2 linked regions of the Homo sapiens genome follow. The protein of the gene in region 1 purifies or fractionates together with the protein of each later gene. This does not show direct contact. Each region holds a gene or a part of one and is shown on either strand. Other genes may lie near its edges.

Region 1 (4,237 bases):
GCACTTCAAGCCCCTTGTGTGTGCCAGACCTGGGCCAGGTGCTTTAGAAGCAATGCTTATGTCATGGCTTCCTCAACAGTTGTGCTAGGTAAGTACTGATGCCTCACTTTACAGAAAGGGAGCTGGACTCCCTTACACAGCTAGTAAGTGATGCTGTTGGGACTCCCCAGCCTGACTCAGAAGCTGAGCTCTATCTACCTCCCCTGCCCTACTGATGACTCCACCTTTCCCAGACAATGAGTGTTCCTGGAACGTTCCACTGAAGGAAGCTTCACCCACAGGAACGCAGGTCGTCTGGGAATGTGGGAGGCATCTCAGCTCTCAGTGCCTGCCGGCTTCCCTCTGCCCCAGCACTCGGGGGCTGTGGTGCACCAGCGAGTGGCCAGGCTGTGTAACCACATCCCTGAGGAGCATGCAGTCCCGCAGGGGTGCGGTAGGTCTCAGGTGCAGCATTTGTAAGCAGCTCCCTGGCTGGTTCTGATTTTGCTGCATTGAGAAGCCTCTGTCTCACTTCCCACTCTAAGGTTTTAGAAAATAAGTGTTCTGGGAATCGGAGCCCTGGCTATCAGTGTGGAGTCCTGGAGCTCCAGACCTCCTGCTGAGAAGGAAGGGTCAGCCTCAGGCTCCTGCAGGGTCTTGCCCAGGGCCGTGCTAGTCCAGACAGGCACATTTTCACTGAAAAGGTGACTCAGACCAGCCTGTGACTACATCTATTAATATAACTTGTTCTGTGACAGGCACAGGGGAGCTGCCATGCCTTGGCCTTCCCCTGCTACGTGGCTGCCCAGAGGCCTGGGAGATGGGTTTGTCTCTATGAGAGACACAGAGGAAAAGGCAACACCAAAAAGAGAGGTGCAGATGGGCCCTGCCTGCAGACAGATCTCTCTCCAGTGGCTCCCTCATCTCCTCCCATCCCGTTCCTGGCCCAGCTTTGTGCCTAGAGGACACTGGGTCTTCGCTAGCAGCTCAGCTGTTGCAGGTGGGGTCTACCTGTGAACTTGCTACCCCGAGCCAGCTCTCACATGGGGTATGGACGACCAGGGTATGGTTTTGGCCCTGGAGTCAGGCTGTTCAGATTCTCACCTAGACTCTCACACTTACTAGTGAGTTCGGGCACCTGCCTAGCCTACTTGTGCCTCAGTTTCCTCATCTGTGGATAAGGATACTGGTGTCTACTTCATAGACTCCTTGTGAGGTTCAAGGGAGATATTGAATGTGAGGTGCTTAGAGAAGGGTCCGGCCACAGAGTAGGGACTCAGTGAGTGTCACAGTGATCCTGTCAATTTGGCAGGTCCCTACATGGACAGCCCTTTGTCCTGCTGCACTGGGTGCAAGGCCCAGTGCCAGACTGCCTTGGCCAGCAACTGACTTTGGAAACCACCCAGCACTGGGCTCTCCCTGCCATGTCCACCTCCTCAAAGGCAGGTTCCCAGCAGTCTGGTTGAAGCTGCAGGCCTCCATGGCCCCTTGTCCTGGAAGAAGGCTGCTTCCCTGGGGGCCAGGACAGCTGCCCCACCTCAGCCTGGCTTCCTCTTTGTCCCACCTGTCCAGAACCTAGCATGTCTGACCCTGAGGACACTTGCTTGGGTTGCGACATCTATGATCCAGAGACTCCCTGAAGCTGTACAAGCCTGGGTATCCCACAAAAGCTCACAGAGAACCTGGGGCTGGGCAGAGAGACCCAACTGCTCTCTGACTGGAGCCTGCTGGCCATTGGACCCTAGCAAGTCACTCAGTGTCTCTGAGCCTTCATTTCATCATCTGCAAAACAGAAAGTGCAGCCCTGACATCCTGAGGCTGCCTGGGAGGAAAGGAAAAGGGTGTGCAGAGCCGGGAGCCGGGAGATGTCACCTCTGTCCCCTTCTGGATATTCAACTCCTTAGCACAGCGATGGCCTCAGGCTCAACCATAGACAGAAAGCTCCCGAGAACCCATCAGTTCTGCTGGGCATGGGCTGCCCTGAGCCCCGGGTTCCTCCAGGCTCTAGCAGGCTAGGTCCTCCTGCTTCCCCTCTTCCCTCTCCAGTCTTGACAAATGAACATCATTGATCCCTGAGGTGAAGGCATTGATGGGTCCCCAACAGCAGGTTCAGGTTACTCTCATGCTCAAAGCCCTTCAGTGCCTTCCCACTTCTCTTAAGGTAAAGCCTAACTCCTCAGCCTGCCAGGCAAGGCCTTTCAGGACCTGGCCCTGCCTGCTTCCCCAGGTCCATCTCCTCCGGTACCAGGACCCTTGAGCTGTGCTGAGCAGCTTCCCTCAAAGCCAAGCTCCCCGCCCTCTGACCCTCTGCACACAGTTCCCTCTGCCAGGAGCAGTATGCCTGATTCTCCCCAAATGCACACGTGTGTGCACCCCATACACATTTACACACAAGGCTCAACCATGATACCCCCTCCTTTGAGTGGCCCCACCCCTGCAAGGGTCCCTCCCCTGGACTCTTCTCAAACCTCAGCTTCCCCCTTGCATTTCTAGATTTCTTCATCAGCCTGTCTCCCGGCCCAGGTCCCATCCCTGCCGTGGGCACTCTAGGCCTGGGACTGTTTCTTCTCGGCCCCTTCCCACCCTCCATGCTTGGCCCAGGAGGCAGCCAAATGTAGACTGAGCCACTCCCAGCCAAGGGCGACTTTACATTTCTCAGGACTCCCTGGTGACCAGCACCCAACACCATGCAGGAACGCAAATCTCCTGCCAGCTCCCACTTACCCAGGCTTTCCACCAGGCCATCTCTTTCACTTCGGGGGCACCTTTCTCACGGAGATGAAGAGACACAGGTTGGCCTCTGCTGGGACTCCACACGTCTGGCTCCTGCAGCTGAGGAGTGAGCAGGCCGCTCACTTGGGTGTGGGGGTGCAAGCCCTCCCAGGGCAGCGCTACACCTGCCTGCCGCCCCCTCGCCCCCGGGCTCTGCCTGGCTTTGGGCGTCTCCTGTGGCTCCCAGGCCCCACCCAGACACTGCCCAGGCCTGCTCTGGGGAATTACACAACTCACTGGCAGATATTTGGGCTGTGGCTGTTACGCATACTGGAAATTCTTAGCTCCAGCCTGCGAAAGCCCCACTCAGTAAACACAGCTCCATGTTGATTAGGCTGGTCTCAAACTCCCGACCTCAGGTGATCTGCCCACCTTGGCCTACCAAAGTGCTGGGATTACAGGTGTGAGCCACCGCACCCAGCCCATTTTCATCATTCCTAATAGCCATGGAGTATGCCATTTAATCAACTGTATATGCAATATTATTTTTTTTTCCGGGGGCAAGGGGCTCATATTCATCACAGATGGGAGGCCAGTTGGTGAGAAGGTGGCAGGCGGCACAGCCACCTTATACAGCATGCCATACTGGTCCACTGTCAGACCGGTGATGGCCTCAGCTCCATCACCCCCCAGGCTGACTCTGGCTCCTGCCTGGCTCTGCCCAGCCACCACAGCCCCTCGGGACCATTCAGAGGCATCACTGGAGGATGTGTGGTTAGTGGAGCAGCTGGTCATGGGGAGGTCTCGTTTCTTTGGTGGAAGGCATTCCACCTTCTCTCATGAGAAGAAAGAGAGAGGGCCAGGCATCTTGCCCACTACTACCCACTATCAACACTTAGGCCTGACATCAGTCTCTAAATAAATATTCTGGGCCAGGTGCAGTGGCTCACGCCTGTAATCCCAGCACTTTGGGAGGCCAAGGCAGGTGGATCATGAGGTCAGGAGATCGAGACCATCTTGGCTAACATGGTGAAACCCCATCTCTACTAAAAATACAAAAAATTAGCCAGGAGTGGTGGCGGGCACCTGTAGTCCCAGCTACTGGGGAGGTTGAGGCAGGAGAATTGTTTGAACCCAGGAGGCAGAGGTTACAGTGAGCCAAGAACATGCCACTGCACTCCTGCCTGGGCAACAGAGTGAAACTCCGTCTTTAAAAAAAAAAAATCAACAGCAGCTTCTAGGATGATGAGCAGTGACTCAGTCTCTCCTTGACCAGATTCTGTAACTGTCCAGCAGAAATGCTTATCTGATCTCTGCGAGAACAGGAAGCAGCTCAGTGGGGGCCTTCCTTGCTAAATTCTTCATCAAGCTGGTCTGTTATCTGCCCTGAGTCCTGCAAGAACATCTCAAGAAAAATCCCAAAAACATGCAAGACAAATGAGGGTCCTCCCTTAGCATGTCTTGAAGCACTGAGGCACCTGAAAGCTGTATATAGTTTCTGGGGAAACAGTTTTTTAGGAAATGTAGCACAGACACTAACTATTCT
Region 2 (4,100 bases), on another chromosome or scaffold:
ATCTTGGTTATTGTGAATAATCCTACAATGAAACACTGTAGGGCAGACATCTCTTTGACATACTGATTTCAATTCCTTTGGATATATATGCAGATATGGGATCATATGGTAATTCTACCTTTAGTTTTTTGAGGAACCTCCATACTGTTTTCCAAAGTTGCTGTACTAATTTATAGTATCACCAACAGTATGTTTCCTTTTCTAAGAAAGAAAATTTTAGTTTCCTATTGAGTGATCTATAATCAGGAATGTTCCAGATATTTACTTTTGCAATCAAAATAGGAATAAGGTTCAGGTTTTACTAAGATAGTTATGCAGATAATTGTGAGAAAATAAGGACCCACTTGATCCTATTCCTGAATTATCAACAATGCTATAGACACATGGAAGAAACCCTTGAGTGAATAGACCCTCTCATAAAGATCTCAATTTCCTTTTGAAAGACAATAACATAAATAAAAACTGCTGACTAAAGGAAGAAAAAACAGTAATGCCACTACTCAATGTATATATCTATCTTTATATACATACACATATATATCTATAGATATGTATCTACAAGGAACTTTCATATATTTTTTGATCCTCACAGCTGTCCTATGAGGTAGGCAGGTTTCAGGTATTCACACTAATGAGGTATTTTCCCCATAAACACTGAAGGATGCCAAGAAAAGTTTGCATTCAGATCTAGTTTCCATGTATTCAAAAAATGAATAAGAGTTTAAAAAGTTGTTTTACCAACTTTAGTTTCAGAATTGACATCAGGCATTTCTTATTTTAAAAGTCCACCCTTCAGAGAAGATAAGAAATTTCTGAAGTCCACCTTTGGAATCTTTTGGGATTCATTCTGACTAAGTAACATTTTTAGTTGAGAGAAGTGTTTCTTTGTTTTGCTGGTGTTCTTTGAGGAGCAAGTAGATACTGACTGTCCAGATGTAGGTGTTCTGAAAAGAAACAAAACCACACTTAGTTATACCAACAAATGACAATCATTTTCTACTCTTTTGTATTATGGCCATATACATGCACTGGCTATCCTCGGTGTATTATCATTTGACAAATCCCTGTTCAGTTAGATTTCCTCAGGAATTTCTGACAGAGAAAAGGGCAAGAACAAATGTTTAGGGCAAGAAAGTGTATTATGAATGGTTCAGTATTTTTTTTTTTGGAGACGGAGTCTCGCTCTGTCGCCCAGGCTGGAGTGCAGTGGCGCCATCTCAGCTCACTGCAACCTCTGCCTCCCAGGTTCAAGCAGTTCTCCCGCCTCAGCCTCCCAAATAGCTGGGACTACAGGCGCACGCCGCTACGCCTGGCTAATCTTTTGTATTTTAGTAGAGATGGGATTTCACCGTGTTGCACAGGCTGGTCTTGAACTCCTGAGCCGCCCACCTCAGCCTCCCAAAGTGCTGGGATTACAGGTGTGAGCCACCATGCCCGGCCGTGAATGGTTCAGTTTTGTTGGCACATAGGATGATTTAAGGCAAAGAAAGACAGGCAGACAGACTGGTGCCAGATAGGGCTGGAAAGCCATGCTAGAGCATTTATCCATATGCTACACAGTGATGCTTCTAATCAGAGCTATGCTCCAGAAAGATGATCACACTAAAAGAGTTTGATCCTAGAAGCAGGGAGACCCATGAGGAAAATCACTGCAGTAGTCCTGACAAATGGTGCATAAGGACCTGAACCAGAATATAGCAGCACTATGGAGAAAAAGGAGCAAAAAGATGAAAACAGGGAAGTAGGATATATAGAAATCGGTGACAAGGACCAAGGGAATAGGGATTTTTGAATGTACCTGTCATTTTAGGTCAAAATGTCCAGAAAGGTGTGTTCATTCACAGAATAAGGAACTCAGGAGGATGGACAGGTTTGAGTGGTTAGCTGTGGGGCAATGATGAACTAAGTTTTGAACATGTAGGGGACTGAAGTGGTTATATTTAGCAGGCAGCTGGAAATAGGCACAGGAGATGTTGGAAGTAGAGTAACATACCTAGAAGTCAAATGCATTGAAATGAGCATTGAAGATATGGGAGTATGTGACATTAGAAAAGGGTATGGAGGAAAAATGGCCAAGTCCTGAAATGCATGGCATATTTAGGGAGTATATATTAAACACAGGAAATTAGAAGAAAACACTTAACACTGGCAATTCAAAAACTTCATGGATTAAGATACCTGAAAACCGATGCTGGGCTCTTGCCTTTCGAGCCAGACATGTCATGATTTGGGTTTGCAGTCCTTCTCTCTGGTGTCTTCAGGCTGAGTTTACTTGTAGGAGTGGCAGGATTGCTCTTCAATGTTGACACAAAGCTTCTACTTTTACCATGATGTTTCACTGTTCTGTTGCATGTTTTACAAGTGATCAACTACCATAAAAATAAGAAATATCAGTCCCGTCATTTATCTTATAATTTAACCCCATAAACCACAGGTTCATTGAATTCTTAAATGTCAGGGACTACACCAGATACTATAGGGGTAAGTAAAATAGAGGCTGTCCTTGGGGAACTTGCAATCTAGTAGCGAGAATCAGACAAGACATTTTTTTTTTTTTGAGACGGAGTCTTGCTCTGTCCCCAGGCTGGAGTGCAGTGGCGTGATCTCAGCTCACTGCAACCTCTGCCTCCTGGGTTCAAGTGATCCTCCTGCCTCAGCCTCCCATGTAGCTGAGACCAGGCGCCTTCCACTGTGCCTGGCTAATTCTGTATTTTTAGTAGGCAGGGTTTCGCCATGTTGGCCAGCCTGGTCTTGAACTCCTGACCTCAGGCGATCCACCCGCCTCGGCCTCCCAAAATGCTGGGATTACAGGCTTGAGTCACTGTGCCCAGCCGACAAATTTTAAATGAGAAAATGTTCAATAAAAATGAATGGCTAAACATTTGTATTTAATTTAAAATAGGTTTTCAAAGATAATGAACTCTACTTTTTAAATATAAAACCATGTTTGGTGGGAATTTGGGAAGAGATGGGAGATAATACTCTTTAACATCTGGAGGAATGTTCTTTGTAACAGCAGTAAGCATTTAATATTTTTTTGCAGATGAACTTCAAGCCTCTTCCCAAAAACAACATGGCACAGTATCACTGGAAATTTAAGTAGCCCCTTCAAATCCTTAGCAATTTTGTAAACATAGGTCTAAAGTAACTTATACAACCAAATGAGTTGTTATACTCTCACACCTCTCCACTCCCATCATTAGCTCTAGAGGTTGTCTTTCTTTTCAAGATTCATTTCTCAAGAAATGGTCCATTTTCTAGCTAATTTCCTTTCTTCTACATATCTAATTGACTGTGCACAGGACTCAGCCCATGCCTCGGCAAATTAATACAAACTAGTTTAAGTGAGAAGTAGTTTGATGTTCATGAGCAGATGAAAATGCCAATGGAAGATCTGCATCTATCAAAGGTCTATGTTGCTTTACACTTTTTGGAAGGAGGCTGTATACAGGTTAAAATAAATCAGCCGGGCGTGGTGGTGGGCACCTGTAGTCCCAGCTACTCAGGAGGCTGAGGCAGGAGAATGGCGTGAACCCAGGAGGTGGGGCTTGCAGTGAACCGAGATCACGCCACTACACTCCAGCCTGGGCGACAGAGGGAGACTCCGTCTCAAAAAAAAAAAAAAAAAAAAAAAAAAAAATCAGAAAAACAAATACCTCTAGCACCTTTCTAGCTGACTTCTGATTAAAATACATTAGAATGTAAGCTTCATGAGGGCAAAACACTGCAAGATAGTGAGGCAGCATTTGCTGTCTTCCCATTTAAGAACATTTTCCAAATATGTGGCAGTAATGATTTTTGAAAAATACAATTCTCCAAGAACTAAGAAACCGAATTCCATACTCACTTCAATATTCTATCTCTTCTTTCTTTCCCTTTAACCATTCAATTTTATGACAAAGCAAAATGCACCTACCTGACCAACACTGGTAAACTCCTAAATATGACAATTTTCAATCCAAGTAATTGCTAATTATAGTCTTAGGCCAGACATAAGCTGTCATAATGTCCAGTGCCCGGCACAGTGATAGACAATAAGCAGGCACTTGAACAGTTGATAAATGTTAACATAAAATATGCAGGGATATAAAGTGTATTTG

The links. Proteins that work in one complex are often made in the same cells at the same time.
Region 2: the proteins of ANXA8L1 (region 1) and RMP24 purify together in Homo sapiens (co-immunoprecipitation; one large-scale study listed by IntAct). This does not show direct contact.

Annotation. Positions count from the first base shown.
Region 1 is NC_000010.11:46,374,339-46,378,575, reverse strand, and holds the start of ANXA8L1 (annexin A8-like protein 1), read right to left. Parts: upstream 2,801-4,237; 5' UTR 2,725-2,800; coding exon 2,704-2,724; intron 1-2,703.
Region 2 is NC_000018.10:35,975,679-35,979,778, reverse strand, and holds the end of RMP24 (UPF0711 protein C18orf21), read right to left. Parts: intron 2,370-4,100; coding exon 2,179-2,369; intron 945-2,178; coding exon 773-944; 3' UTR 501-772; downstream 1-500.